Linked DNA regions of Homo sapiens: regions 1, 3 and 4 are each linked to region 2. Evidence: fine-mapped expression QTL. A gene starts in region 2. Each other region holds a variant in brackets. All regions are shown on one strand. Distances are between the middles of the regions. Region 1 holds the start of LOC124903609 (small nucleolar RNA U13). Region 2 holds the start of TM2D3 (TM2 domain containing 3). Region 3 overlaps TARS3 (threonyl-tRNA synthetase 3). Region 4 has its middle 13 kb from the start of OR4F6.

Evidence for each region. PIP is the estimated chance that this variant, and not a neighbour inherited with it, causes the effect.
Region 1: its variant is the best candidate, but not a certain one, in a credible set for the expression of TM2D3 in sun-exposed skin (GTEx, PIP 0.52).
Region 3: its variant is the best candidate, but not a certain one, in a credible set for the expression of TM2D3 in cerebellar hemisphere (GTEx, PIP 0.83).
Region 4: its variant is the best candidate, but not a certain one, in a credible set for the expression of TM2D3 in monocytes after LPS (Fairfax 2014, PIP 0.80).

Annotation. Positions count from the first base shown.
Region 1 is chr15:101,679,296-101,687,404 of GRCh38, forward strand. TARS3 (threonyl-tRNA synthetase 3) reads right to left here. Exons shown (of 19, transcript NM_152334.3): 11 at 6,601-6,767; 12 at 4,780-4,942. It overlaps LOC124903609 (small nucleolar RNA U13), which reads left to right and starts at 4,220; the gene lies at 4,220-4,321. The variant C/T (reference allele first, on the strand shown) is at 4,192.
Region 2 is chr15:101,648,490-101,656,598 of GRCh38, forward strand. TM2D3 (TM2 domain containing 3) reads right to left here and starts at 3,892. Exons shown (of 6, transcript NM_078474.3): 1 at 3,782-3,892; 2 at 3,207-3,284; 3 at 1,515-1,672. The coding sequence starts at 3,872. It overlaps TARS3 (threonyl-tRNA synthetase 3), which reads right to left. Exons shown (of 19, transcript NM_152334.3): 19 at 5,107-6,241. The coding sequence ends at 6,093. RefSeq lists silencers at 3,480-4,039, 4,280-4,469 and enhancers at 4,130-4,189, 4,296-5,186.
Region 3 is chr15:101,688,947-101,697,055 of GRCh38, forward strand. The region is part of intron 10 of TARS3 (threonyl-tRNA synthetase 3); the gene reads right to left. Among named protein-coding and RNA genes, the nearest start is that of TARS3, 31 kb to the right of the region's middle. The variant C/T (reference allele first, on the strand shown) is at 4,654.
Region 4 is chr15:101,786,131-101,794,239 of GRCh38, forward strand. No RefSeq gene overlaps it. Among named protein-coding and RNA genes, the nearest start is that of OR4F6, 13 kb to the right of the region's middle. The variant T/C (reference allele first, on the strand shown) is at 3,223.

The DNA.
Region 1 (8,109 bases), 31 kb after region 2:
GTTCTCAGGCTCTGTTCTTTTCTCTTTCAGTCTGTTTTCTCTATGTTTTTCAGATTGTGTAATTTCTGTTCTTGTCATTATGTCTGTCTTCACCATTCTGCTCATGAATCTATTCACTGAATATTATATTTCTCAGTTCAAAATTTCCATTTGGTTCTTCTTTATATCTTCTATTTCTTTCCTGAGATTTTCTGTTTCTTCGCTGACTTTGTAATTTTTGTTTGTTTCAAGTGTGTTAGTAATTGCTCATTAGTTAGTAATTGCATTTTTATGGTGGTTGCTTTAAAATCTCTGGCAGATAATTGTAACATCTTTGTTATTTCAGTGTTACCGTTCATAGATTGTCTTTTTAAATTCAAGTTGAGATTTTTCTTGTTCTTAGCATGATGAGTGATTTTCAATTTCTTAAACCTGGACATTTTCGGTTTTATAGTAAGCCTCTGGATCTTAAATGTTGTTTTAGCTGACTTCCACTGACACTCTTCCAGCAGAGGGAGGACAGTACTGGACAGTTACTGGCAAGTGGGAAAAGCAGTCCAAGCTCCTTTTAGAAAGGAAGTAAGGGGAGAGGAGCTCCTCGTTACTTCTGGGTTGCACAGGTGTTCTAGCCCCCCTCCATGGCCTTTACTGCACACAGAAAGCATGGCCTCATGACCAATTGGCAGTGAGAAAGTCTTATCTTTCCACTAGACGTCTTCTGACACTACTCAAGCAGGACTGGAAGAGGCACCTCATTACTTCCAGGGGAGGGCAAAAGTCCAGGCTCCCCACATAGTCTTCACTGACACTGCTGGGTTGGGGGAGGGGGATGGGATCTTGTTAATGCAGGAGTAAAATTCCCAGCTTCCTAATAAGCCTTCTCTTACCCATTCCAACAGGTATTGAGGTACTTATTTAGAGCCTGCTGAGAGTTAAAATATAAGCTTCTCAATCAGCCTTAGCTGGCATATAAAGGGCCACAGTTTTTTCTGTGGTGTCTGGTTGAAATAGAGTAGATATTGTCTAAAACTTTTCTATCTTTCTAGGCTGCCCCTTTCCTAGTCCTTTGGCTACAGCAAGCAGACTTCTGTTGGCCTGTTTTATCGATGCCTGTTGGCATCTGTTGGTTGCCAAGTCTGGAATATATGTGGCAAAACAAAACAAAACAAAAACACCTAAGGAACTCACTACCATGTTGTTTCTTAGGTCCTGATGTCCATAGCCAGTGTGCCCTTTTTCTCAACACCTTTCAGAGTCTCGTGTTTGTTTTATATGTAATATCCAAGGTTTTTACTTGTTCTTAGAGGGAAGGAAAGGGAAAGCACCTGCTTCATCTTCCCCAAAGCAGGTCTTTTTTGCTCATTGTTTAACTGGGTTGTCTGTTTTCTTATTGAGGTTTGAATATTTGTTAAGTATTCTGGATTCAAGTCCTTTATTTGATATATGCCTCACAAATATTTTCTCCCAGTCTGTAACCTGTCTTTCCTGTCTATGATCAGTATTTTTTGAAGAGCAGAAGTTTTAAATTTTGAGGAATCCAATTTATCAACTTTTTTCTTTTATGGATTGCCCTTTGGTGTCATATCTGAGAAATCATCACCTATCACCTAATTACAAAGATTTTCCCCAATTTTTATTCTAGAAGTTTTGTATTTTTATGTTTGACATTTAGGCCTGTGATTCATCTTAATTTTTTCATATGGTATGAGGTATGAATCCTCATACCTCATGTTTTGCATATGGATACACAATCATTCCAGCATCATTTGTTGAACATATTACCTTTCCTCCATTTTATTGCCTTCGAATCTTAATTAAAAATCAGTTGTCCATATATTTGTGTCTATTTCTAGACTCTGTTTTGCTGATTTATCTATCTAGACCAGCATGATTACTGTAGTTTCTCATAATTCTTGAAACCAAGCATAGTGACTCTTCCAAATTTGTTTTTATCTTTCAAAGTTCTTTTGGCTATTCTAGGTTCTTGTGCTTTCTATACGAATTTTAGAATCAGCATGTCAACTCTTACAGGGAAAAAAGGTCTGCTTGGGTATTGACTGGGATTGTACTGACTTTATAGATCAACTTGGGGATAACTGATATTTTAATAATATTTAGTCTTCCAAACCACGAACAAGGTATATTTCATTTATTTAGGCCTTCTTTAAATTTATCTCAGCAATGTTTTAAAGTTTTCACTGTATAGGTTGTGTATGTATGTATTACTCAGCTTGGGCTGCCAGAACAAAAATCCATAGGCTGTGTGGCTTAAATAAGAATCATTTATTCTTCACAGTTCTGCAGGCTGGGAAATCCAAGATCAATGTGCCAGCTGATTCAGTTCCCTGGTGAGGGCTTTCTTCCTAGTTTGCCAACGGCTGACTTCTCACTGTGTCCTCACACGGCAGAGAGAATCAGAAAGCCTCTGGCATCTCCTTAAAAGGGCACTAATCGTATCATGAGGGTTCCATCTTCATAATCTCATCTACACCTAATTACTTCCCAAAAGCCCCATTTCCAAACACCATCACATTGGGGGTTAGGACTTCAACATATAAATTTTGGGAGTCACAATTCAGTCCATAGCAACATATTTGTCAGTCTTATCCCAAAGTACTATCATATGTTTTGAGATGCTATTACAAATTGTTTCTTATTTGCAATTTCCAAGGGTTTATTATTATGAAATGCATATACAATTCATTTTTGTATGTTGATATTCCATACTACAATTTTTCTAAATTCACCTTACTTCTAATAGCTTTCTGTAGATTCCATCTGATCTCTACATAGATGATCATGTCATTTACAAGAGTTTTAATTCTTTCCAATCTAGGTGTTTTTTATTTCTCTTTCTTAACTTACTGCATCAGAAAGAACCTGCAGTACAATGATCAGAGAAGTAATGAGATAATCCTTACCTAATATCTGATTTTAAGAGTAAAGCATTCAGACTCTCACTATTAAGTATGAGGTTAGCTGTAGGTTTTTCATAGAGGCCTTTTATCAGGTTAAGAAAGTTCCCTTCCATTCCTAGTTTTGAGAGTTTTTATGAGATATGGATGTAGAATTTTGCCAAATACTTTTCCCTGCATCTACTGAGAAGATAATATGCTTTTTGTCTTTTTGTTTGTTTTCTTTTTTTTAGTTTGTGAATGTGGGGAATTACAATGATTCATTTTCTAATGTTAAACTACCTTTTCATTCCTGGGATTCAGTCCATTTGATTAAGATGTCCTTTTTAAAAAATTACTAGATTTGACTTAGTAAAATGTTGTTTAAATTTTTTGATTTTATGTTCATGAGAGATGTTCAGTAGTTTTCTTTTAATTTCTTTGTCTTATTTTTCTATCACAGCAATATTAGCTTCATTAGCTTCATGAGGTGGTGAAGATTTCCTCCTCTTCAATTTTCTGGAAGAGTATCTCTAGATTGGTATTATTCCTTCTTTAATGTTTGGTAGAATTCACCAGTAAAACCATCTTGGCCTGGAGTTTTCTGTGTAGGAAGGTTTTTAACTATCAATTCAATTTCTGTAGTAGACACAGGGCTATTCAGATGATCTACTTCTTCTTGAGTAAAGTTTAATAGTTTTGTCTTTCAAAGATTTATCCATTTCATCTAAGCTGTCAAATGTATGAGCATAAAGTTATTCATAAAACTGCCTTATCTTTTTAACAGCTACAGAATCTGTAGTGATGACATCTGTCTCATTCCTGACATTTTTATTTGTCTTTTTTCCCTCATCAGTCTGACTAAAGGTTTATCAATTTTATTGATCTTCTCAGAGAACCAGCTTTTGTTTTATTTTTACTCTTTATTTTCTATTTCAGTGATTTCTGCTCTGCTCTTTCTTATTTTCTTTCTTTTGCTTCCATTACATTGGGTGTAATTTGTTCTTCTTTTTCTATCTTAAGTAAAAGCTAAGTCATTGATTTTTCTTTTCTAATGCAGGTATTCAGTGCTATAAACATCCCTCTACCACTTAAATCGCATCCTACAAATTTTGATGTGTTTTTATTTCATTTGTTATATAAAATTGTCTAATTTTCCTTTGGATTTTGTGTTATCTATTTTTAATTCTATTGTGGTCAGTTAGGATTAGGGTTAAACATTAGGGTTAATTAAACATTTTATTTTAATTGCATCCCTTTCAACTCACTGAGACTTGTTTTATGGTCCAGAATATGGTCTATTTTAGTAAATATTCTA[C/T]GTGCAATTTCAAAGAACAAATACTCTGAGCTTTTTGTAGTTCATAAGCGTGATGACTGGGTGTACACACATGTGTAAGATGTACCTCCCTCACACCTCGGTACAACATTGGCATATTACCCACCCCACATGAAGCACATTGGATACAACACTGGCACATTACCCATCCAACATGAAACCAAAGAATGTATATTCTGCTGTTGTTATATAAACATCAATTAGGTCAAATTGTTTGACAGTGAAACTTTGCATGGCAATTTTAACTTGAATTAACACAAAAACTTGAAAAAGTAAATTTTAAGTTCTAGGCGATACTGAAAAACAAAACATCCAGAATTCCACCAAATCCCTTAAAATACTCCACTTAATGGAATTTAGGTTAATAAAATCACTGAAGGAATATATTTCATGTCAAGAGATGATTAATCTATTGACCTAATTTAGAGAATCACAGCAGGTTAGAGCTGAATGAATCTCAGAGACTAGACCAAACGTCTATGTTTCAGTAACTCTGAAAGAATACAAGATGTGTGCGGGGCATCACACTCAATTTGTGACCACACTGCTTCACTCTGTGTTATTGTTTACCTGCTCCACTGTGCAAAAAATGTGAGCATCGTCCTGCTGGAAGCGCCTCACTCTGGTCAAGCCGCTGAGAGTCCCCGACAGTTCATTTCTATGCAGAACTCCAAAATCAGCAAATCTAATAGGCATTTCCCTCCAAGATCGTGGACGATGGGCAAACATTAGACTAGAAAAGATGTGGTAACACACAGCTTTTACACAGCACAGAAATATTAAATAATTATCTAAATATAAAGAAATTACAATTAAGCCTCAAGATTCATAAACTCCTTATTCTAGTTCTTAGATCACCAGGTTAAAAAAAAAATTCTTCCACAAATTAGTGAACCTTGCATTTACATCACTGCAGCACTCTGAGAAAGATGCTTGTCTATTATCTCTTCCCAGAAATGCTGTTCCCTCCCCTTATCCACACAGTGAATCACCATTTACTGTTTATGATTCATTTCAAAGGCTACTTCTTAAATGAAGCCCTCCTAGACATTTCCCAGACAGGGCTAGGCAGTTTCTCCTCACGTTCCTGGAACACCTCAAACATGCCATCATTATGGCACTGGTCTTTTTATAACAGATTGTCTACATGCATGGCCCTGCCCACTCTGCTCATGAGTTCCATGAGGGAATGGTTTGTGTCTTAATCACCTCTGCACTTCTAGCTCCAAGCACAAAAAGCACTCAACTATGTTCTCTGTTGAATGAAAGACTTCTCTCCTGCAGAAAGCACTCCTAGCTTCCATATCCCATTGCCTCTAAGCCACCGTGGTCTTGCTTTCTTATTCTGAGGTGTAAAAAGACAAACTTAAATTCTCTACTTTCATTATAAAGTACGAGGCTATAATTTTAAAGGATGCCTTTGAGAAGATGAGTTAAGAAATTGTTAACACAAGTGTTTTACAATGCAAAACACTAGCATAGCTTCTACCTTCTGTTTAGAAAGAGAGGATACAGAATGTTTACATACCGGTGTTCCTAAAATTAAAGTTATATATATTTTTTACATGACATCATCATAAAGTTAAATTTCTTCTCATCTTCACTTAAAAGGGCAAAGAGCTTTCTTCAGTGTTCAGTTACCGGTTTTAATAATTATCTTCTAGGTAAATTTACTTGAAACTATGTATGTTGATAATACAAAAACTACAATTGTTGGGATTGTTTTTTGTGGACAATTATGCCTATTCAGTTTCAGTTGTACAATATGTTTGTCTTACAAGGTTGAATTTGCATACCAACTTTATGATAATTAGTCTTTCATAGAATCAAAGACAGCATTGATTGTAAAATGTATCTTCATTTTATGTGCTACAAAGAAAGAAAATAACCTATTAATTAAATTATGATATAATGCTAAGATGCCACCAACTATAAGATGCATTTCAACTTCAGAAATGTTGAAATGTGGAAGAAAAATGGTATCTTGGAATCAGTGAAATCCAGAAACCCATTGATTATGACCTCATTGATCTTGTTATAATCCACCCAAACAGTATGAAAGAACTAAATATTCTGCAAATATGAACATGTGAAGTGCATTACTATAAGAAAGACAAATATTATAAAACTTATAAAATTGACACATAACATTATCCTTTAATCAGCACAAAAAAATGCAATGGTTACCAGCTAACATCCCATACCTGCCAAAGATCAAATATATTTTCAAAAGTAAATCCATTCTCCGGAATGAAACAACTTAGTAAAAATTAGTAATCACCACTCTTCAGATTAAAGGGACTCTTTCATTCCACAAAGCATTAAAAGATAATTGTGACGAAGCGTGCTATGTGCTCTCATGAAAAGGTCTGCTTCGCTTTTAATACTCACCAGTGCCCTGGACAATTCATGGGTTTGAGGGCAAAAGTGTCCTTTTCAATCTCAAAGGTAAACATGTTCTCGCTGTAATGCTGCCAGTGGCCTGAGGCTTCCCAGAGTTTACTGTTGTACATATTGGGAGAGAGCACCTCCGTGAAGTCCCGTTTGTGATATTCCTCCTTCAAGATACATGCATTCAACATTAAAATCTGCTAGGGCAGATCACAATTCCATGCAAAGTAACACTATGAGCAAATATTTTCAAATTGGGCTCATGTCCTATATTAATTCATGATTAATGTACCCTCAGTTTTAGGTGTGGTGGTTTCTGGATCTTGGAAGAAAGATTTACATATGCTTAGTATAATTTCTATTGAGTATATTTATTTTATAGCATATAACAGTATATAGTATATAATGTTTTAGTTCTTTGAAAAGTAGTAATTGAAATACAATATATATAGAAACTCACTGTAACTACTCCAAAGTCCTTCTAAACAGGTTTTTTCCTATTAAGAGGCAGAAAAAATTTATAATTTAATAAGCCTGAATGCCATGTTGCATGTTATAATTTTGATTTATTTAGTTTTAAACAGAAATAAGAATTTTAGTGTATAACGATTTAAGTAGTTGAAATTATTAAGTCATGAGCTGGCCTCTCTCCCTCCCTACCTATTAACAGCTTCCCTAATTGAATTACTGGAGACAGGAGAAGAGAGTTTTTTTCCAAGCAAAGTTTTAACTTTATTTAAACTTTCTTTAAAAACAAAACAATTAGGTGATCTTTGTTGGGTAAATATTTTATGTGCACTTTCCAAAAATGCATATTCTGCTGTTGTTTTACAAATGTCAATTAGGTCAAATTGTTTTGACAGTAATTTGATAGGGACCCTTTGCATGACAGTTTTAATTTGGATGAACACAAAAAGCTGAATAAGTAAGAATTCTGAGAATCCTTAGATTCTCAACATTTGTAAACCACTTAATGGACATCTGGCCCAAATCTAGAATGCCATGTATACTTTGAGCACATTTGAAAAACTGTTTTCACAGCTAAAAAAACATAAAACATAACATTTTAAGATTACTAACAATGGTTTTATACAACTGAAAGGAATGTTGTCTGTTATTCTTCAGCAGGGCATCCTGGCAGTCCACGGTAGACAGCTTAGGTCTCGGCCATTCAGTGAGCTGCTTTACCTATCCTTTGTTTTTACTAAATTAGAAAACCTTAACAGGTAGGGTGTGGTGGCTCACGCCTGTAATCCCAGCACTTTGGGAGGCCAAGGTAAGTGCATCACCTGAGGTCAGGAGTTTGAGACCAGCCTGGCTAACATGATGAAACCCCATCTCCACTAAAAATACAAAAATTAGCCAGGCGTGGTGGCACACACCTGTAATCCCAGCTACTCAGGAGGCTGAAGCAGGAGAATCGCTTGAACCCAGGAGGCAGAGGTTGCAGTGAGCCAAGGTCACGCCATTGCACTCCAGCCTGGGCAACAAAGCTAGACTCCATCTCAA
Region 2 (8,109 bases):
CACATGTACATGGAACACATGTCAAGACACAACAGGAGAGTGAGAAGTGAGCCGGCCTCGTCTGGCCCAGCCGCCGGGAGCCCCTGCCCTCCCCAGGCCAAGTACGCTCTGTGCTTCCAGAGAGAGCTGATTCTACACATAGGCACATTTATGTCACCTACATTTAATGTTCCCCAATACTTTCACTTAATTTTGGACATCTATCAGTACATTACCTCTAGAGCTGCCTAGTTCTTTTTAATGGCTACAAGGTGTTTATTCTATTACACGTGTACCATAAATTAAGCAGTTCTTAGACATTTCACTTCTTTTGAATCTTTTGCTTTAATGAGCAATGCAGCTAAAAAATAAGCACACTTATCTGCATCCATGTATAATGATATCTATAACATAAATTCCTACATGTACAACTACGAGCTCAACGATTGTGTGCATGTGTAAGTTTAACAGATATGGCAAATCGCCTACAAGAGGTTGATCAATTTGATTACCTATTAATAAGATATGAGCATCTGACCCTTATACTCTCACAAACTCAGAGTTAATCAAATTAAAAAAAAATTGCCAATCTAAGGGTTAAAAATGTATTAATTAAATACTATGAGAAAACTTATATGTTTTTCATGTTATATATCTATTTGTATTTCCTTTCCTATGAACCATCTGCTCATGTCCTAACACTGTTTTTCTACAAGACTGTCATCTTTTCCGTGTGGGTTTTAGGAAGTGTTTATATATTACTGATATTACTGTATTATTTGTCACATATTCTAGAAACGCTTTTTCCTAGTTTGCCATGTCTTTTGCCTTTATGCTTTTTTTTTTAGGTCATGCAGAAATCTCCAATTTTTAGGAGTCAAATGTATCAATTCTTTATTTTATGGCTTCTAAACTTTATTTCATACTTAGAAAAATATTCTCCATTTTGGGATTATAACAGCAACTATCTGGTGTTTTCTGTGGTACTTCAGGGTTTCATTTTTCACATTACATCTTTGGACTATCTGGAATTTATTCTGGATAAGACAGGCGTTCCACTTAATTTTGTTCTAGAGAGCTACCAGGCATTCCGGCATTTACTGAATCCATCTTCTCACCACAGATAAGCACTGGCCCTTCAAAAGCTCATCTATGGCAGAAAGACACTGCCACCCCCTCTGTACACTAGCTGTCACTATTGAGAACACAGAATCCATCTGAACGAATTAGACTTGCTTCAGATATGCTAGTAGACTGAGATCTTCTCCAGTCCTACAAAGCAACATTTCTGTCAAGTGCATTTCCAGCAGACATCAACTGGCTTGACAGTTATCATTATAACTAAAACAGTAGTGAGCTGATATGGAAAGGTCTATTGGGTTTTTTAATTTATTTCTGCTTACATACTCAAAAGGGAAATCATAAAAGAATATAAAAATTCTTCAGAATTTCTTCCCAATAATCAAGTCTGAATTGTTCTTCTAACTTAAAGTTTACAATGAATTTATTTAGAATAAGTAAGCTGCAGTACTTACAACACAGGTAACAGATGGTTTCACTGCACAGTCAAAAGTGACAGGCTTCCCATAGGTACAGGAGAAATTTGTTGTGCAGTCTATACAGTCTGCAGGAAGCCTGCTACACAAACCATTGCTCGGACACTTCATCACATAAGGTGGGATTTCAGTACTTTCTGTGAGAGGCAAGAGAGAAGCTTATTCTCCTATAATACTGATTCGAATAACAGAGAACAATCTTCTAAGGTTAAGAGACGTGATCATTAGCAAGTAGACACTGCACTGGAAGGGAAGAAGCATGGGACTGGAGTCAGAGACACCTGCAATTAAAGCAGAATTCTGCCCACGGCCAGCTGTGGGACCTGGTGAGCACCACACTTGTAAAACATTACTTCATTCCTGCCTCCCACGTGGCCGTGAAAACTAAAGGTGCTCATATACAAATAATGTATAGAAAATTCTGGGTATACATTAAGGGCTTAAAAAAAAGACTATCATTTTGTAAGTTGAAAAAAAACTTACAGTAGGGTTTTGCAAAATCACAGAGGAAGTCTGTGGCAAAACTGGAACTAGAACCCAAATCTCTCCATTTCCAATCCCGTGTTCTTTTCATCTGAATTCACTAATTCAGAAATGAAGCCACTGACATCCTCAGGGCATCAACTTTAAAATGTCATTATTTCACACTGGTACTTCGATAAGCCACATTTGCTAATATAATATTTACAGTTTTACGCTACCAAAGTTCAAAACAGTTCTCTACTTTAATAACATCTTCAGTAAGCTGCAACTTATTTCCAACCAACCTAATGAGTGTGCAATGTATTTTTACCAACTGAAAGGATCAAAATTGCAAGTATTCCTGAAAAGAAGGGCTTTCAAAAGCCTGCAAGAGTTAAGAACTCTTGTGCTTTCTCTAAAAAGTAATCTGAGTTTAAAATTCAAGTGCACTGCTGTTTTTTACATCCAAATAAGAATCAGTAAAATATCTCTGCCAGTTTCAATTCACTGAAGTAATGTCACTTTAAAGTGATGAAATTATAGTCAGAGCCTCCACCTAGCAAAACACACTAATGCTTGTTTAAAACTGGTCCTACTTTACTCACTGTATTAAGGAACAATTCTACAAAATACTCTTTTTGATCCCGTGACTATGTGGCTGGAAGGTGGACACTTAGAATCACAAAGCAGAAATGACTTTAGGTCGTCAGACCAACCCCACCGCTTTAAAGATGAGGACCAAGGTCCAAAGAGGATAAATAATTTGTTCAAGATCCCAGTAGCAAAACCAGATCTAGATTTCAAGTCTCCATCAGTCCCGCTGTAATCCTTCCATTTCCACAGTCCTGAGGGAGCCTTTAATATTCCAACATCAGGAACAGGGTTTTAGCAGTAGAGGAAATTTGCTGAAGGGAAAGAAGCACGGACTGAAGGTTATTTTGATGGATGAAGTGGAAAAATAATAGAAATAAGGTGACAAATGAGCGTGGGATTGGAAAAAGAGAGGAGGCAGAAACGTCAAAAGGTATAAATACGAAGACTATCTACTGAAAATGGCTGTGTATCTACCCTTAATTCACATAATCTAAAATACAATAAATATTCAAAAATGGAAAGTGACTTCGTATACTAAAGGGAATTTTTATAAAAACAAAGAGAAACTACTAGAGATAACTACATGTATTTACTAGAATAGAAAACGTCTAGTACCTGCTGCCCTGGGAACTACTGTGAATGTGCGTGTTGGGCCCGGATCCTTTATTGACTGAGCCAGCGCCTGCGATTGCTCTAAATTTAAGGATCGTACAATTAGAGAAACACGTTATCCCGGGACAAGAAAACCTTATTTTGTGTGGTTAACACGGCGGGTCTACACCAGGCCAATAAGCTGCTCATGAAAACCTCACGGCTGGTCAGCCAGAAAACACAAAGCTTAGGGACGAAACGTCAACAGAGTAGACATCAGTTCAGGTCAGCCGGCAACGAGGGACCGAAGGATGACATCGCGCTCCAGTTCCGCCTCCCCGGCCCAGCCCCCAAGCGCTCCATCTCCGTGCCAGGGCTCCGCAGCCGCGATGGCGGGCTCGGTGTCGCCGGAGCGGAGGGGCGGCCTCGGGCCGGGCGGCCAGGGCGCCAGACTCCAGATGCAGCGACAAGCGGCCCGGAGCCCGGCACTCGGCCTCCTCCCCGCGTCAGCGTCCGCCCGTGGGCCCGGCCTCCTCGCAGCTCCCGGGGCCCTGCTGCCACTCAGCCCCACCCGGCGCTGAACCCAGCCTTTGACTCACCACCGCCCGACAGAATGCAGAACTGCGAGAGGAAGAGCAGCACGCGACACAAGGCGCGGAGGCCCCTCAGCGGGAGCACCCCTCCCGCCATCTTGCCAGCGCCTGCGCACTTCCGGGCCGGGGGGCGGGGCGCGCCTGGGAGCCGGAGCGTGAACTGGACGCAGGCGCGCTGCGACTCCTGGCGGCCGGCGTTTGCGCTTTCGCTGTCCTCGCGCGGGTCGCGGGTTTTCTTCCGGTTGAGCCTTCTGGGAGGTCCCCGAGGAGGATGCGAGCCTGGGAGGTTGTTCCATTTCCACGCGCCCCTCACGCCCTTGGACGAGGCCCTCACCCCTGGTTCCACTGCAGGAGACCTGTTAAAGGTCATCCGTGGACCGAAATGCGCGCCCGAAGCAACCAAGAGCAGAGGCGGGCGAACGCGGGAGGCTGGCCGCCCCAGTGTGTGGTCGGATGTTGTGTGCTGGATCTCGTGCGAAGGTTCCGAGGACACTATCGCGTGGCGTTTCATCCTAAAGACACTTATTTACAGTCGGGGAAGCGGCCCCGGGACGACGAGGGCCCGAGGGACCCCTCCCCTGGGGCCGGCGCTCAGGCCTGCCGCGGCTTTCACTTCTGGCCGGCCTCTTGAAGATACGCAGCACTTCCAGAAAGTTCCTCTCAGGCCTGGAGAAGCAGGATGGCCCGAGGCGCTGGGAAGTGAGGGGAGGGTCCAGAGCCCAGCCCTGCCTGGGGAAGGTCGCGGCCGTCTGGGGAGCCGCGCTCAGGCCCCAGCTTGCGGAGACCCTTGCCGGTTTCTGTCACAGCACACCTGGGAGAAAGCGCTGGTGACAGGTGCTCTCCTCCCACCCACGTGCTTCGGGATCGTTCATTCCGCGGTCTTCTGACTACCACCCCCTCACGTGCATGTTTGCTGAATGACTTTTTAAAAAATACATGGAAAAGTGCCGGCACATAAGCCCTGAATGTTAGCTTTAAAAATCGTATCACGGCCGGGGGCGGTGAATCACGTCTGTAATCCCAGCACTTTGGGAGGCCCAGGCGGGCGGATCACGAGGTTAGGAAATCGAAACCATCCTGGCTAACAACACGGTGAAACCCTGTCTCTACTAAAAATACAAAAAAATTAGCCAGGCGTGGAGGCACGCGCCTGTGGTCCCAGCTACTGGGGAAGCTGAGGCAGGAGAATCGCCTAAACCCGGGAAGCGGAGGTTGTAGTGAGCCGAGATCGCGCCACTGCACTCCAGCCTGGGTGACAGAGCGAGACTCCGTCTCAAAAAATAAATAATAAAAATCATATCACACAATCTGCACCTTATACTACTACACAAGCCTGATATATATTGTTTTGTTTGCCAACTGTTTCACTGTTCACATCCCTCAGGAAGTTAACTAAATGATCAGTATATTGAAAAGAGATTATTTCTTACATTTCTTTTGAATTTCACAGCATATCGCAAAATAAACAATACTTCTTGTTTGGTAGCTGAATTCTCTATTGACATAATGCCATTTTAATTCAGTTCTGAGCACGTAGAGCATTCCTCTCTTTAAAATCTGAAATCCATTTCAGTACATAAATCCATGGAATGTCATCCCATCAAAAAAGTAACAACTCTAGGTGAGCGGCTTAGTGGTGGTAGAAGCCCACAGCTGAAACGCTGGAAACACTGATGCAATTCATTTGGGAATTTATTTTTTTCTAAAGCGGAACAAAACCTAATTATGAATAAGAAACATTTAAATGGCAACTCTTAACCTATAGTGCAAACACCAGATTCCACAAAACTGAATTCCTTTGTCAGTAATCCAATATTTAGCAGTAGCTGCTGCTTTTGTGGTTGTTGGTTAGTTAAAATTAAGTAATGATTCCAGTTTAGAAGATAAAGTTTCAGTGTGAATTTTAGTAGAAGTCATAAAAATACCTGAGACATATTAGAAAATAAGATTTTCCCTCCTATTTAAAAAAAACTCTGCAGACTTTTATTTGAAGCCCATCTTTTGAAAATCACTAACATTTCATAATCATTTCCTAGTGTTTTGTTTCACTTTCTCGATGAATAATATTTCCCCATTTAAGTTTCTCAAGGCATTGATTGCTGGAAAATTTCCCACGTGCCCTCTAAACGTCCCCCGTGGACATGAGTAAATTAAACTTCGTGCATGTCAGCTACACGTTCATCGTCTCCTTTCTCAGCTGAGGCCATGAGTGGACCCATCAGTGGCTCCAAAGTCGTAGAAGTACTAACATGTTAAGAAAAATACATTTTTAAGGGTCAAAACAAAGTTACACAGAAGCAAATATCAGGGAAGGACTTCAAAAGGCCTCCTCAGCATTGAGTGTCCGTGTCTTCCTGAGATTCTTCAGTTTATCAATGGCAGAAGTTACTAAAATCTCTCCATGAATTTTGTTGTCTCTTGTTCGCACGTTTACAGCATTATCTATCTTTTCCTTTTCTCCAACCACTGCAGAAAAGAAAGGTAAAGAAATGTATTTTAAATCAGCAATTTACCAAACATTAAGTCAGCAGTCCCATGACATGTTTTTATCAAGTTTTTCTTCACTAATATTAAATATCATCTAATGAGCATTTGGTTCATCCTCTGATAGTTAAGTTTCTTGAGGGAAGCAATGACTTCTGATCCCATCTCTCTATTGTCCACCTGAGAGAACAGCTCTTGTGGTCCTGGGGTGCAGATGAGAGGGGGGAGCTCTTACAGACTCACACTGACTGCACCTGGCACTAGGGCGCAAATGAGAGCGGGGAGCTCTTACAGGCTCACAGTGACCCCACCTGGCACTAGGGCGCAAATGAGAGCGGGGAGCTCTTACAGGCTCACACTGACCCCACCTGGCACTAGGGTGCAAATGAGAGCGGGGAGCTCTTACAGGCTCACACTGACTCCACCTGGCACTAGGGCGCAAATGAGAGCGGGGAGCTCTTACAGGCTCACACTGACCCCACCTGGCACTAGGGTGCAAATGAGAGGGGGGAGCTCTTACAGGCTCACAGTGACTCCACCTGGCACTAGGGCGCAGATGAGAGGGGGGAGCTCTTACAGGCTCACACTGACCCCACCTGGCACTAGGGTGCAAATGAGAGGGGGGAGCTCTTACAGGCTCACAGTGACTCCACCTGGCACTAGGGCGCAAATGAGAGCGGGGAGCTCTTACAGGCTCACAGTGACTCCACCTGGCACTAGGGCGCAAATGAGAGCGGGGAGCTCTTACAGGCTCACACTGACCCCACCTGGCACTAGGGCGCAAATGAGAGCGGGGAGCTCTTACAGACTCACAGTGACTCCACCTGGCACTAGGGCGCAAATGAGAGCGGGGAGCTCTTACAGGCTCACAGTGACTCCACCTGGCACTAGGGCGCAAATGAGAGCGGGGAGCTCTTACAGACTCACAGTGACTCCACCTGGCACTAGGGTGCAAATGAGAGCGGGGAGCTCTTACAGGCTCACACTGACCCCACCTGGCACTAGGGTGCAGATGAGAGTGGGGAGCTCTTACAGGCTCACACTGACCCCACCTGGCACTAGGGTGCAGATGAGAGCGGGGAGCTCTTACAGGCTCACGCTGACTCCACCTGGCATACCTGATGAGCCAAGGAGTGGACACCAGACCCATGCGAGCCAGCCAGAACTTTCTGGAATGTGGGTAAAAAGTTTGTTCTCTCTAGTGACCCATATTGTGAGATGATGCAGGAATCTACAGCCATGCTTCTTGCCACACAGAAGGAAGAAACCGGTCTGCAGATAAGTGGAATAAGGTAGATATTCAAGAGAAGCATAAAGAACCAGAGCAAGACAGGAACGAGAAATGGGGAGAAATACTCCTGGTGAGGGTTGAGCTCCTGATTGCTCTTCTAGTGGTTTGGCTATTTAATTCTACCTTTCATGTCATGGGATACTCCAAGACCCTTCCAACAAATGCTGTCTTTGTCTAAACCAAGTTGAGATTTCTGCCACCATAAGAAGCCTGACTGAAACAGCACAATACCTACTCTGGTGTCAAACATTATCATTGAAACACTGTCAATAGAACAATGCTATGCATATTTATTTCGCCTTCTACAGACTCTCAACTTACAAGAAATAGCAATACTGTGCCTGCAGTTATATCAGTGTTAGTTTCTCTTAATTTTGGAATCATTTTTAAAGCCTAAATTTTAGATTCTGCATCTAATTAGTCATATGCTAAAAGGACATTTTACTTTTCATCTAAATCTTTTCCTTTAGATCATTTTAAATTTGGGATCTTTTCTTTCTGTTAGTTTAATCCCAAAGTTTCCTAATAAGCCAGAAAAGTGAGGGAAAATATTACAGGC
Region 3 (8,109 bases), 40 kb after region 2:
TTTTCTCTCTGGAAACATTCAGGATATTTTCTTTATCCTTGGAGCTTTGGAATCTTTCGATAACATGTTTTGGTGCCCAAAGTATGTTTTCACCAAAAACTGAGACATGCTTGGGAGTTGAGATTGTCCATTGCCCATTATGGGCTCCCTTTACTATAGAACTGATAGACAGAAAAGGACTTACTACCCTTGATCCCAATTACTTGGGGAAAGACTTACTACCCTTGATCGCAATTACTGGGAGAAGTCGTATTGCTTACAATGGAGTAAGGAGGACTGTGTCTGGAATTCAGTGGGGAGCCTTTGATATCAACACATCTAGCAACAACCATCAGTGGGAGCCCTGAAACCCCACAAAGAGCATTACTAAAACCTTGGATCCTAAGGACAGACTGAGGCCATCCACTATTATTGGTTTAACTGTATTCTCCAAATAAGATATTTTGAAGTCCTAACTCCTAGTACTTCAGAATGTGTCCTTATTTGGAAGTAGGGTCTTTATAGAGGTAATCAAATTAAAATGAGATCATTAGGGTAGATCCTAATACTATATGGCTGGTCTCTTTATAAAAAGGAGAAATCTGGACACAGAGACAGATGCACACAAGGGGAAGACAATGTGAAGACACGCAGGGAGAACATCACGTGAAGACAGAGGATGGGAATGACGCTTCAACAAGCCAAGGAACACTAAAGATGACTGGCAACCAACAGTAGCTAGGAGAAGGCAAGGAAGGATTCCCCCATGGGTTTTAGAGGGAACACAGCCTCGTCAACACCTTGATTTCACACTTCTGGCCTCCAAAACTGGGAGATAATAAATTTCTGTTGTTTTAAGTCACCTAGTTTATGGTATTTTGTTATAATACCCTAGGAAACTAATGCACCCACCAAATAAAACAATGCCCATCTGGGGTGCCACCAGGATAAGGCGAATGTGGAATGAGTGATGGGAAAAGAAGGCTCTGATGTATCAGCTTGGCCCTAGCGTCCATCTACAGAGGCTGAAACAGTTACATTTAGTTATGACTTTTCCTTGCATTCTTACATGAAGGGCACTCATGGTGGCCAATGGCACGATTCAGATTTAGGTGAAACTGAAATGACATCACCACATGATGACACATCGGCTGATCGGAGTTTGTGGGAGGAAACCAATGTCCTCAGTGTCCTCCAAGCAAAAGGCAAGAATGTGCTGAGAGGCACAGGGGGTGAGCCAGGCTGGTTATTTTCCATTTGCCACTGCCTGTCTCGCCTCATCTTGGCCCATTTTCCTTCCTTCTCTGCCCTGCACTGTGTTCCCCAAAGCTGACTTCTGTGGGCTCCGCACAAGGCTTACTTGCTGTGATTATTATTTTTTTATTTTATAAAATATATACTTTTAAACACAATAGTATAATACAACATGCTTAAATTATGTTTCATGTGGAAAAAAATAAGGTGTATAAAGAAAACCTGAACATTTTCTCTCATTCCACCCTTTACTGCCCTGAGATAATGCTAATGGCCTGCTGTTCCTGTATTTCAACCCTCTCCTCCATGACTGTGCAAACACAAAACACACATACAGGATTTTGTTGTTTTTTGCTTTTACCTATAAAAAGAAAGGATACACTATACATTTACTCTGTCACTTCCAGTTTTCAATGGTGAGGTATACTGAACCCCCTTCAAGTTAGTATGCATAGATGTATTTTTGTACTAACTGCATAGTGCTTTATTGTGTGGACATGTCACAAAGTATTTAATCCTTCTACTATTGAGAAACATTAGACTTTTCATTTTTGAATACTACAAACTATTCTGCAGTAAAGTTTTTTTCTATGTGATTTTAATTGTATATTTTAGATTCCTTTCTAAGAATATTGCTAGGAGTGTGCATTTTTTTCACATTAATATTTGTTACCAGATTAGTAGCAATTTAAACTTTCTCTCTAAGTATATGATAACTGTTTCCTCACATTTCCTTCAGCAATGAAAATTATTTAATGGGTATCAATCTTTTTTTTTGAAATGGAGTCTCGCTCTGTCACACAGGCTGGAGTGAAGTGGCGTGATCTCAGCTCACTGCAAGCTTCGTCTCCTGGGTTCACACCATTCTCCTGCCTCAGCCTCCCGAGTAGCTGGGACTACAGGCGCCCACCACCACGCCTGGCTAATTTTTTTGCATTTTTAGTAGAGATGGGGTTTCACCGTATTAGCCAGGATGGTCTTGATCTCCTGACCTCATGATCCACCCGCCTCAGCCTCCCAAAGTGCTGGGATTACAGGCATGAGCCACTGCGCCCGGCCAATGGGTATCAGTCTTAGAACTATTACCTCAGTATTTATATATATATATATATATTTTTGAAACAGAGTGTTGCTCTCTTGCCCAGGCTGGAGTGCAGTGGCACAATCTTGGCTCACTGCAGCCTCTACCTCCTGGGTTCAAGCAATTCTCCTGCCTCAGCCTCCCAAGTAGCTGAGATCACAAATGTGCACCACTACGCCTGGCTAATTTTTGTATTTTTAGTAGACACAGGGTTTCACCATGTTGGCCAGGCTGGTCTCGAACTCCTGGCTTCAAGCGATCCACCCCTCTCAGCCTCCCAAAGTGCTGGGATTACAAGAGTGAGTCACTATGCCCAGCCTTTTAAATTTTCTTCAATAAATTTTATTTCACATATTTGAGATTCACAACATGATGTTATAGGACACAAATAGTAAAAGAGTTACCTTTTTTGTGTGTGTGACAAGAGCAGTTAAAATCTAATTACTTAACAAAACTCCCTGATAAATATAATTTTGTTAACTTTAGTCCTCATGTTCTGTATTAGATCTCTGGCCTTGTTGATCCTAGATATCTATTTTGTATCCTTTGATCTATATCCCCCCATTTCTTCCCCCCAACCCCTGACCATGGTAAGCACTGTTTAATTCTCTGTGTATGTACCTGAGCTCTCTCCTTTTTTTAGATTCATCAGCTCCCCTGGTTCTCAGGCCTCTGCACTCAGGCGAGAATTACATCTCCAACTTTCTTGGACCCTCAGATCATGGGATTTCTTGGCCTCCATAATCACACAAGCCAATTCCTCATAATAAATCTCTTCTTTTCTATGTATCTTGTTGGTTCTGTTTCTGTGGAGAATCCTGACATGCCAATATACTTTCCATATGGTTTCTGATTGGGTCTGACCAATGGGAAGTTCCAAAGGATTCACAGGGTAGTGGAAGAGAGAGGTCTGGATATTTCTTTCCCTGGTTCTCCCTGCTGTGGGTTTACTCAGGTTCTGGCTGTGTTCCACAGTTACAGCTTCTGTTGTGTGGCCTCTCCTCCACGGCTCCAAGCTCTCTGTGGGTTCTGGTATTACTACTCCATCTCCTCACTTCTCTCCTCCACGGCTCCAAGCTCTCTGTGGGTTCTGGTATTACTACTCCATCTCCTCACTTCTCTCCTCCACGGCTCCAAGCTCTCTGTGGGTTCTGGTATTACTACTCCATCTCCTCACTTCTCTCCTCCACGGCTCCAAGCTCTCTGTGGGTTCTGGTATTACTACTCCATCTCCTCACTTCTCTCCTCCACGGCTCCAAGCTCTCTGTGGGTTCTGGTATTACTACTCCATCTCCTCACTTCTCTCCTCCATGGCTCCAAGCTCTCTGTGGGTTCTGGTATTACTACTCCATCTCCTCACTTCTCTCCTCCATGGCTCCAAGCTCTCTGTGGGTTCTAGTATTACTACTCCATCTCCTCACTTCTGCAGGCCTAGTGATGGAGGGGAAGGGATTCTTGCTATTGGTAATCCCTGGGCGCTCTATCATCCCTTGTTAGTTACCTTAGCCAGGCCCATATCTCCATAAATACTTCCTTCACTAGACTCTCTTCAGTTAAACCCTTGGAGTGCATCTTTCAGGACTCTCCCTGCAGAAGAGCTGAATGTTTTGAGGCCTGCCATGTTCACAAAGACAAGCTTGGTCTAGAAATTCACTCCATCTAAGGTTGTGTGAAGAGGAAGCAAAAATTCCCCAAGTGGGTTATTAATATAACAACAAGAGAAGCCACTCCCCTCCCCACTCCAGGGTTTCAAGACATGCATCAACAAGTCAGGCAGATTCCAGGAAATGCAAAAGGTGTGACTGAGATGAGCTTTACAAAAGCAACCCTCATGCACAGCTGGTGGGAATGCAAAACAGTAGTCATTTTGGAAAATAGTTTGGCATTTTCTTATAAACTTAAATTTACCATATCTATTCTCACACTGCTAATAAAGACAAACCCAAGACTGGGTAATTTATGAAGGAAAGAGGTTTAATGGACTCACAGTTCAGCATGGCTGGTGGGGGGGCCTCACAATCACGGTGGAAGGCAAAGGAGAAGCAAAGGCACATCTTAAATGGCAGCAGGCAAGGGACTTTGTGCGGGGGAACTCCCTTTTATAAAATCATCAGATCTCAAGAGACTTATTCACCACCACAAGAACAGTATGGGGGAAACCACCCCCACGATTCAATTATCTCCGCCTGGCCCCACCCCTGACCCTTGGGGATTACTACAATTCAAGGTGAGATTTGGGTGTGGACACAGCCAAACCATATCACCATATGACCCTGAAATCACACTCCTAGGTATTTACTCTAGTAAAATGAAAACCTATGTTCATACAAAAAACTGTA[C/T]ATGAATGACAATAGCAGTTTTCATAACTGCCAAAAGCTGAAAACAACCCAAATGCCCCTCAACTGCAGGATGGATCTGAAGCAGTGGTATGTTCATATGATGGAATACTGCCCAGGGACAAAAGCAGAGGCCCGCTGGGGACACTCAACTCGGATGCATCTCCAGGGTGTTATGCTGGGTGAAAGCGGTCAGTCTCTAAAGGTTTTATAAAAGTATGATTCCATTTATATGCCAATATTTTAGGGGTAGAGAAAAAATCAGCCGTTCCCTGAGGTCAGGGCTGGGGAGGATTTGATTTTAAAAGGGTAGCATGAGGGAGTTTTGAGGGGTGACGGAACTGTTCTGTATCTTGATTGCTGAGGTGATAACACAGTTCTGCATGTTATCAAAAAGGCGTACATTTTACTGCATGACAATTAAAAAAGTTAATTTAAAAAAAGGTAAGAAAAGTACAGAATCAGCTGACAGATATTTTCCAGAATGCAGGGAAAAAAAAATTCAAGGAGACTAACAAAAAGATCTATTTATTCACTATCAGTTGTCCACACAGTCAGTAACTAATATACAAACAAAAGTTCACTTGCCTTTACTTAAACCTAAGTGGAAGTCATTTTACCTGAGTCAAAAACTCAGAAATCCTGAAATTTCCCTCAGTGGGAGCAGTGTGCACACCCAGCCCATCCTGGCCTCCTACATCCCTTCCACAGAAATGCAGCAGTTCCAGTTCTGAGGAAAAGGATGCTTCCTGGTAGAATGCGGCCATATATTCCATCGTGCTCAGCACCATGTATCCCCAGCACTCTGGCTACTACTGACTGGTCTAGGACTCAGCACCAAGGCAAAGGCTACTGATATTGGACCAGACCATGGCCCCTGAGGCAGCCCAGCTGTGACTGAGAGTCTGTCCCACAAGCACACCCTCTACTGGCTGGTGACTAACAGAACCAACTGGAACCTCAGGGAGGACCTTGAGGCACATGGAAGAGGGCAGAGAGGAAAAAAGACACAGGCAGATAGACTGAAAAATATCAAGACCCAACAGTATTCTTTTCTCCAGCAACGTACTTTAAATATAGAAACAGAGGCAGAAAATAAAAGGATAGGAAAAGATATATCATGCAAACACTAATGTAAGAAAGCTAGCTTGCCTATGTCAACACCAAAGGAGACTTTTAAAAAGATAGTTTTATTACAAAAGGTCAAATAGCCTATGAACCCATTTATATGTGACACCTAGAAATAGTCAATTTCATAGCGACAGAAACTAGAGTGGTGGTTACCAGAGGCTGGGGGAGGCAGGCATGGAAATTAGTGTTTAGTGGGTACAGAGATTAAGTGTAGGATGATGACAAAGTCCTGGCGAGTTTCGGATTTGCAACGTGGAAAGAGTTCTGGAGATGGACCATGACAGTTGCATAATAACATGAATGTACTTAGTGAGAATGAATTGCATACTTAAAAATAGTTAAAATGGTAAATTTTTATATTATGTGTATTTTACCACAAAATGGCTTGAGGTAAAATTTACACGCCATAAAATTCACCAATTTTAAGTGTACAATTCAGTGACTGTTGACAAATGTATACAGTCATGCGACTTCTGCCACAGTCAAGATATAGAACATTTCCACCCTCCAGGAAGTTCCCTCCTGACCCCCTGGAGTCAATCCCCTCTCCCCACCCACTGGACTCCTGATCATCTTTCTGTCACTATAGTTTTGGCATTTCTGAAATGTCATATAATGGAATGGTGCCTTATGCATTCTCTGACTTATCTGGCTTAGTACGATGCTTTCGAGGTTCCTCCTTCATGTGTATATCAGTATCTCACTGCTTGTAAATGCTGAGTTGTATTCCACAGCATGGACTTTCCACATTATGTTTATCTTTTCACAAGCTGAATCTGGGGTTGTTTCTGGTTCTGTGCTATTATAAGTAACGCTTCTATGAACATCCAAATACAAGTCTCAGTGTAGATGCGGGCATATGTTTTTATTTATCTTGGGATAATTAGAAGTGGGGGCTGGCGTGGTGGCTCACGTCTGTAATTCCAACACTTTGGGAGGCTGAGGCGGGCAAATCACCTGAGGTTGGGAGTTTGAGACCAGCCTGACCAACATGGAGAAACCCCATCTGTACTAAAAATACAAAAATATTAGCTGGGTGTGGTGGTGCATGCCTATAATCCCAGCTACTTGGGAGGCTGAGGCAGGAGAATCACTTGAACCTGGGAGGCAGAGGTTGTGGTGAGCTGAGATCATGCCATTGCACTCCAGCCTGGGCGACAAGGGCAAAACTCCATCTTAGGAAAAAAATAAAATAAAAAAATAAAAGGCCGGGCGCGGTGGTGGCTCATGCCTATAATCCCAGCACTTTGGGAGGCCGAGGTGGGTGGATCACGAGGTCAGGAGATTGAGACCATCCTGGCTAACACGGTCTCTGCTAAAAATACAAAAAAATTAGCCAGGCATGGTGGTGGCAGGCGCCTGTAGTCCCAGCTACTTGGGAGGCTGAGGCAGGAGAATGCATGAGTCCAGGAGGCGGAGCTTGCAGTGAGCTGAGATCGCGTCACGGCACTCCAGCCTGGGCAACAGAGCGAGACTTTGTCTCAAAAAAAAAAAAAAAAAAAAAAAAAAAAAAGAAGTGGGGCACGTTTATCTTTACAGGAAATGCCAAACTGCTACAAAGTAGTTCTACCATTTTACGTTCCTACCAGCAGTAAGTGTTATACTTGCTTCATATTCTTGCCAATGCCTGATGTTTTTAGTCTTTCTATGATGGGAAGGGGACATTCTTCAATCAATAACCCTGGCATGAGACTCTACCTGAATACAGTCATGTAAGGGACCCAATGCGAGAACCACCCACAGGAGCCTAAAATTTGGAACTATGAAAGACAGTAATGATGAAATGGCAGTTTTAAACTATTAAGTTCTGGGATACTTTGCTATGTTGCAATAGCCATCCAGAACAGAATTTTGCACTGGATGTAGGTACTGCTATAACTGAGAAATAAAAATAAAATCCTAAGCTCCCCAACTGACTGAACAGACACCCTCTTGGCCAAAGGACCCCAGAGAAACCTTAAAAACTGAGTTACTGGCAGTGACAAGAGGTTGGACATGCCTAATTATACCCACTCTGTCACTAACAACCATTAGGCTTTCTTTCCTAAGAGTTAATCAGAAACAAGCCCTTTTGAAAGACTTGTTCCACCACTGATTTACACAACTGAGCAGCATTTCTTCCTGTTAAAAGACCACTCACCATGCACTGGTTCTGGTTGGTTTATAAAGGCTGCACATGGGATGCCTCCGTGTCCTCCATTTGACCTTTTGGTTATACAGCCTAATTTAAATGCATTGTCTCCACCCCAAAGTGAACAAGGGATGCATGTAACATGCATGTTTGCTTACTATGTATATAAATGTCCCCCCTTTGTGAATATTCATAGC
Region 4 (8,109 bases), 140 kb after region 2:
CAAAAGACTCCCTCGGGCAAAGGAAATGTACTCTTTGGGGATTTACTTCATAACAATAAATGGATAAACAGAACACCAAGGAGAACTGTTTATATTTAACCATGAACATGTATGTATACAATACATGCATACGCATAGAAAGTATAAAATAAATAAATTCATCAAAGCATTAAGCATTGTCTCAGTATGGTGGATCTAGGGAGTGCTTTGTAGACCGCCCTCTTTGCCTATCCTTTCTAATTTCACAACGGTAAATACGTATACTTTTGCAATATAAAATTTCAAAAAATGTTAACTCAAATTAAGCTGCATGTAGCCCTTCGGTCTGTCCTACATTTGTATGATGCTCCAGAGTGCTCAAATAACACTTCATAAAAAAATTTATTTCTTCAAAAACTTACTTTTGTGAAGATTTCTGTGAATGTCTATGTGTTAGATATTCACTATGTGAACATCAAAGTGAAGAAGCTCAGGCATTTGCATGCTTGACTCATAAGGAGACTCGAAATGTGGAGCTGGAGGGTGAAATAAGGGCTCACCTGTTCCCAGACTTGCCACAATAGGTGGTTCTGTTTTTACAGAAAGTGAGTGATGCAGAAATATTTTGACAGCTCATTTGTTCAATCATTGTGTTCCTTTGGACTTAGATTCCAGATAATTGGGACCCTCTTAGCTGGTGGCTAGCATGAATGAAGTATTGTTGTAAAAATGCGAACGAAGGTACATATATGAATGGAAGCGTATTTTGCCCAGAAACCATCGGTTTGGGATTCTGAAAGATCAGGAATGAAATGCTAGGCCCATAACTTCCTCCAGTGTGATCTTGGACATATTACTCCTTCTGTATTTATTTTAGATTTTTCAACCTTAAAATGAGTACAATAATATCATCTTAATCTTTCCTTTCACTTCTATCCGCTTCTCTTTCTAGGAATATTTATTGGAAGTTTGTTCTCTTTCCACTTGGCTGGCTGCTTTAAGATACAAGTTGAGTAAAACCAGTGCTACTCCTGGTCTGCTGGGAATTTCAGGCTAGTAAGGTTGTTATGAAGATTAAATAAGATAACATAAGTAAGTTAGTTCATGTGCAGTGTTTCAATAAGTATTGAGACCCTTTCTTCTTCTGAAAGGTTTATGAATCTCTTAGGGCATTCTATTCAGAAGATCCAAATACCTCTTGCCAGTTGCCCAAATAGAACAACTTGTTCAGAGCCTAGGAGAGCAGGGTCAATAGATGAATACTTTACAACACCTAAGAAGTTTAACAGACACTTAATTCTGGTCTTTAAATGACTTTATTTTGTTGCTTATTTGTAGATGACTATATAGAGTGACAAAAAAGTGGAATACACTATCCGAGCTATAATAAGATAGATCTTGTAAGTGTAAGCATTTTAGACATCAACTCAGTATAAATTTTGACTTGAATGGAAATGTTATGTCTGAGGGTTCCCAGTTTTGCTAATGACACACTTAATTGACAATATAATTGTGACACTGAAGAGTGTGAAATTAAAATCTTAAGAAGTATGCAAACTAATAGCATGATTCTCTGTGTGAACAAAGCGGTTTAACTGAATAGTACCTTATTTATGATTGGCTTTTCATACCTAGATAATTCTGTCTGGTATCTAATGGAAAAACTGATCTAAAAATGATTAACGACCATTTGCCACTTTAATAAAAATTGTCAAAAACAGATATTGATGATATTTCTAAAAATTATTAAGGGGAATAGAGCAGCATTTCACAACTAGATTCCAAGGATTGTGGTCTGGACAGCACAAACCACATATTTTCATCCATTGTCTAGATCTTTATTAGGTCTAATGCATTTATAATATTTTTGCAAGCTTATATTTTTAATTATTGCTAGTACCTCAATGCCCAATACAGATGATACAACTAACCAGTAACCAATAAGATACAGACTTTGAGTTTTGTGTTTCAGGAGTTATGGGTTGCAGTGTTTTTATTTATACTCGGTGACACTGTTTCTCTTCAGCTCCAGTGTAGTGATTGAAGCCTTCTACCAGGCAGAGGACTAGGTGACTAAGTATGTATGGCATGGGCCGCAGAATAGACAAGACTTAGTCCTGTGCTTTTGGACTAATGGTCTGGTGTGCTGACCAAATAAGCATTTCAACACAAGTGATTCTCATCAGTATCATGATGTGTTCTCTTAACAGATTGAGAATTTTATTTTTCAAATAGGAAATGGCTAATTTATTTTAAACTATGTATCATATTATACTTTCAAATTCCAAACAGTATCTTAAAATGATATGAATAATTAAGTTTATAATTTAGCTTTAAAAAGCTATGTAAATTTTATATTGACACTGATGGGATAGAAATCTACATTGGAACTTTTAATTCCTTTATGTTTTTATAGTGTCATCATAATACAATAAAATTACTGCTCTATTGCATTGGAAGTATATGCTCATTAAGGAAATGGCCAGGAAAAAAATATTCACGTACTCAGGGAAATTTTAACATGAGATATTTTGCCTTAGTGTGTATATCACTTGAACTTCCTTTGAACTCTGTGCACTACTTGCTATTTATGACAAAGAAAGCCATTGCTCACAAAGTATTGGGTTTGCCTTTGAAGCGGTATCAGGAGATCATTGACAAAAGGCAGGGCTGAGATTAGATGTTGAGGGTTATTGCCTTGCTATAGTCCCAAAGCTATGTGAAATGTCAGCTAATTGAAAATGGTAATTATTCTAAATAACAGCATAAACTGTTTCTTTCTAGGATATGTGTTGCTTTCAAATTAATAGCCATTGATCTGTGTTTTTTTTTTTTTTTTTTTTTTTTCACCATCCTTCTCTGTCCTTTTGTCAAATTATCTAGCCATCGGTCCTTGGGACAAAACCCGTTGCACCATTTATATTGACCATGGTTTAATGAGTGACCTGGTCTTCCTGTTTGCATAGATTGTAATAGGCCCACCCACCTGAGAGTCTGTCAGCCAGACTGAGATGTGTAACCTCTATGTATAACTTAGTTTCTAAGTGGAAAGACTTTAAAATGGAAACCAAGTAATTGTGTTACAGTGGCCATTTGCATTTATTTCAGATACTGGTCGGGAGAAGTCCTATTAATCACAGTCATAATAGATCTTCAAATTATGACCTACTGAGCAAGGTCATCCTGTATGAGATGAATAATATATATTCAAAATGTTCAGCTTGCTTCTAATGGGCAGTACTT[T/C]GTACCAAATGGTTTTGAGGGAAATACGTACAGTATAATTTTTCAGACAAAGAATTAAAATTCCTAGTTGTGATGGTTAAAAAAAAAACCCTCTAAAGTAGAAATTAGAAATACATATTCTCCATAGCTATAAAATGAGCCACAAGTACACTTTGATTCTGTAAAATTGAGTTACTTTGGAAAATATTTCAGAGTAACCTAATCCCAAATCAAGGCTCTCTATTGGAATTGGTAGACAACCCAAAAATACTTGGGCTTGATCTGTTTCAACAAAGTGAAGAAGACAGGAAGAGTATGAGAAATTATTCAAATATATTCAGAAAAAATATCTGCTGAGGTTGGAAAACTAATATACAGTGATTACAGAAAAGTTATACTCCATCCGTAGATCAAGCCTTGCCACAAAATCATAAAACCAATTTTCTTTTTGAGTGTGAAGGAAATGAGTACCTGTCTTTCTAATTGTAGTAAAAATAGTACCATTAGTGCTTCCTCTAACTTTTTTTTTTTTTGAGATGGAGTCTCGCTCTGTCACCCAGGCTGGAGTGCAGTGTCACGATCTCGGCTCACTGCAAGCTCTGCCTCCTGAGTTCATGCCTTTCTCCTGCCTCAGCCTCCCGAGTAGCTGGGACTACAGGTGCCTGCCACTGCGCCCGGCTAATTTTTTGTGTTTTTAGTAAAGACGGGGTTTCACTGTGTTAGCCAGGATGGTCTCAATCTCCTGACCTCGTGATCTGCCCGCCTCAGCCTCCCAAAGTGCTAGGATTACAGGTGTGAGCCACCATGCCAGGCCAACTTTACTTTTAACTAGTAAATTGTAACCAGGAAGTATACTCACAAACTGTGGAGCAAGGACACAGGAACAAATGTAGCATTGAAAATAAACAGTAGAAGATAGTGAATCTGACACATTTAATAATGAGCAAATGCTGTTGTGTTCCACAATATTTAGGCACACCTATGCAAAAAATCACTTCAGGAAACCACGGCTTTACATCTTAGGAAGCAAAAGTGGAGGGAAAGGGTTGGCAGTGAAGAACAACTTGTACACATGCCTTGTTAAAGCAATTCCACATAATCTTATTCCATTTCAAACCAAGACTGTTTAGAATCTTACGTCCTGTTGCCACAAGAACTGAGCTCAATACTTTAGAATCCTAAGCCCAATATCTGAGAGTGGTGAAGGCATTTTTGGAAGAACCCAGGCATGTATCTGTAGGACCTTAGTAAACCTCCTGTTTTGCATAATTCTCTCCTGCCTCCCCAGTCTGTCTGAGGGCTATGCTTTCTTCTTCCCTCTCCCAAGTGAAGGTAATTGACTGATGCTTAATTGTTATTTCTTTCTAAAATTGATAACATAAAATGAGGGCATTAGGTTTCTTCCTTGAAAATCTTCTGTTTTTATAATAAAAGTAGCTGTAGCCAAAACCTGCCCCATGTAAAAAAGTATCTGCTAACAATTACAGAAATTGTCATATGCATCTGTTTTTTGAACTCAGTGAAGTCCCAGAAATCTTTTTAGTGCTCTGATACCTTGTAATAAAGGACCTCTAGAGGTTACTGAAATGAAAGCATGCAGAGTTACTGTAGCGGTATGTTGTTACAGGGGAAAAGAAAACCAGCAGCCATTCACTGTACAGCCTACACTGCTGTAACCGGTGTTGCCCAGTAAACTATCTGGCATGCAAAATGCTAAGTATTCAAAGTACCTGGCATTCATGATCATTGTGATAGCAAACTGTTGACATTTGGTTTATTTCCCAAAGCCGGACCATTCGTACTTCTCTTAAATATTTTGGCTTTAGAGCTTTGTTGTTGATACAGATAATGTATCTCCTTGTTGCCCTGTTTCCCTTCTTGCTGCCCTGCATTTAGCTGCAATTTGCTTTAATGGAGTCATCCCCATGATCATGGAGAAATTGTTCAGTATTTTGATGTTTAGCTTTCATCTCATTTTGGATCGTTTATCTTGATAATTAACATTATTGCATGAAGACCCAGTTGAGAAAAAATATTCTGTAGGAAATTCATTCTTTAATAGTTAATATAAGCCTTCACATGCTGAGTGTCAAAACCTGCAATTCCTCTTGATCCTTAAAAGGCTTGTAAATAAAGACAGTTCAGTTGAAGAAACTATACTGTTAAAGTCAAATATTTTTGGAAATCAGCTTTGAGTCTTGGGGATTTAGAAATTTACGTAAATGATCTGACTCTCAGCAAGCTCTAAATAAACAATAACTATTTGATGGGGTAATTGAAAGAGAGCCTCCCATCAAGTGATCACTATCTGCAAAAGTGATAATTCACTAAAAACTTATGCCTCACTTTGTAATAACAATATCACAGTGGGAATTTTTAATCAATAAACTGGAATATAATCAGATTGGGGAATATGTAAATCTATATCAGTCCAGTGAAACCTACCAGCAGGGAGAGAAAAGATAAAAATGTAAAAATCAGATTGAATTTTGGGGGAAAGCTTAAAAGAAATGCAGTTATGCCTCGGCTGCCATACTCAGCATGGGACATAAAGAGCCCCACCACAGGGCTTGAATTTACAGGAGTCTGTCCAGCACAGCTTTATCCGACACTGAAGCTTCCTAACAAACAGAAAGAAATCTTACACTCTTGCTTGTTAGTATTTAATACATGCATTATGTGCTTTTTAATTTTTTGGTCCTACTAAGGAGTAGCTGATAGCGCTGTTTTGAAGGCATATCTACTGTGCCTCTGACTAGCAATAGGAAACCGGTTAAGTTATTCAACCTCTCTACATTTCAGTTTCAGGAAATGAAGTGGACAAAGAAGATCATCATTAGGCAATATGTACCTCCAATATTCTGTATTATGTGGAGATATCAAGTCCGTATGTGATTACACAAATCATAGTCCAAAAGAGTTCAGAATGAGACATATAGAATTGAAAGTCCTATTTATACAGATACTGGTTAAAGCCCAGGGATTAGATGGGTTTAAAATGCTTTACCGGCCGGGCGCGGTGGCTCACGCCTGTAATCCCAGCACTTTGGGAGGCCGAGGCGGGCGGATCACGAGGTCAGGAGATCGAGACCATCCCGGCTAAAACGGTGAAACCCCGTCTCTACTAAAAATACAAAAAATTAGCCGGGCGTAGTGGCGGGCGCCTGTAGTCCCAGCTACTTGGGAGGCTGAGGCAGGAGAATGGCGTGAACCCGGGAGGCGGAGCTTGCAGTGAGCCGAGATCGCGCCACTGCACTCCAGCCTGGGCGAAAGAGCAAGACTCCGTCTCAAAAAAAAAAAAAAAAAAAAAAAAAATGCTTTACCTCTATATAGAAAGGAGTACAGGACCAGGAAAGGGCCCAGGGGCATACCATGATTGAGCCGAGGAGACAGTAAGAGAGTTTCAGTGACAAAGGAGATGCAAGGAGACGATGGGGTTTCTGAAACCAGGAGAAGAAAGCCTTCATCATAGAAGCAAGTGATAAACTTCACTGAACACTTCTAAGACATTTCGGACAAGAATAGAAGAGCGACCTTTGGATTTCACTGCACGTAGCTTAACAAACGTTCATAAAGGCAGTGAAAACGGAAGCTCGGTTAGGGTGGTCTTAGGAGAGAATCCAGGTGATGACGTAGAGAATGCGACTATAGATGGCTCTCTCTAGAAGTTTTACTTTTAAGGGTAGCAGAGAACTAGAGTAGAGCTGCAGACATAGTTCCCCCTCCTCCCTCTCCTCCATCTCCAGTTTCTTCTTCTTTCCATGAGTGTAACAGAATGAAATTTAGGGCATAATCCTGTAGAAGGTAAGAAATTAACGATGCAGGAAAGAGATTGGATAATTGTCCAAAATAAATAAGTTCTCAGATGATGCAAGGCAGTGGGCTCTAGCACACAAAGGGGCTGACATCTGATAGGAATTTAGTTGTTTTATCCACATAACAGTTATTTTTTCAGAGAAAAATCGAATTGTGAAAATATAGCTGAAAACCAAACATTACCCCTATGTGTGTGGTAACTTGTGATGTAAAATGCATTTCTCAATAAAGGTCCTGGTCATAAATTTTAAAAGTAAAATACCTTGAGGGAGCTACAGTTAGAGGACAGCAGGATGAAGGATAATCATCAGAAAGAATACAAAGTGGGCCAGGCATGGTGGTTCATGCCTGTAAACCCAGAGCTTTAGGAGGTGTTGTTGGGAGGATCACCTGAGATCAGGAGTTTGAGACCAGCCTGGGCAACCCAGACCCCCATCTCTACAAAAATAATAATTAAAAAAAGACTACAGAGTAGAAAAAGCAGAGTGAAACAGAATCTTCAATACAAACAGTAGGGGGATTTTAGCAAAGAGTAGCTGACTTAGATGGTGCTAAGATTTGTATGGAGTTCAGTGCTGAGAAGTCTTTTTAACAAGTGATTTAAATGGGAATATTGCCTTGTTTACATAGCTCAAATAAAATGCAGTATAATGTGCAGAAAACAAAAAAAAACAGTAAAAAGCTTAAATAATCTTTATTCTTAGGACAATGTTTTTCAAATAAGGATTATGGCTCACTATTTGGTCATAACATAAAATACATTTCTTATTGTGGATGGCTCCAAGAAAAAGAAAACCCAAGTTTAAGAAGGCTCACCAATAGAGAGTTTACCTATGTCATATAAGAAGTCCCAGTTATACATCCACTAGTAATAGCTCCATGGCCAGGTACATGCTAGTATTTGCATTTTGGAACGGTTTTTCTCTCCCGTTTGTTGTCTCTTGGTCACAAGATGACAGATTATCCCAGGCCTCACGTTTACATTCGAAGACTAAAAACCACTGTGGTGAGTAGGAAATGCCCCTCCCCAGAGATGACTCCCAAGCCCTCATTCCCAGACCTGTGACTGTGTTGCCTTACATTGCAGATGTA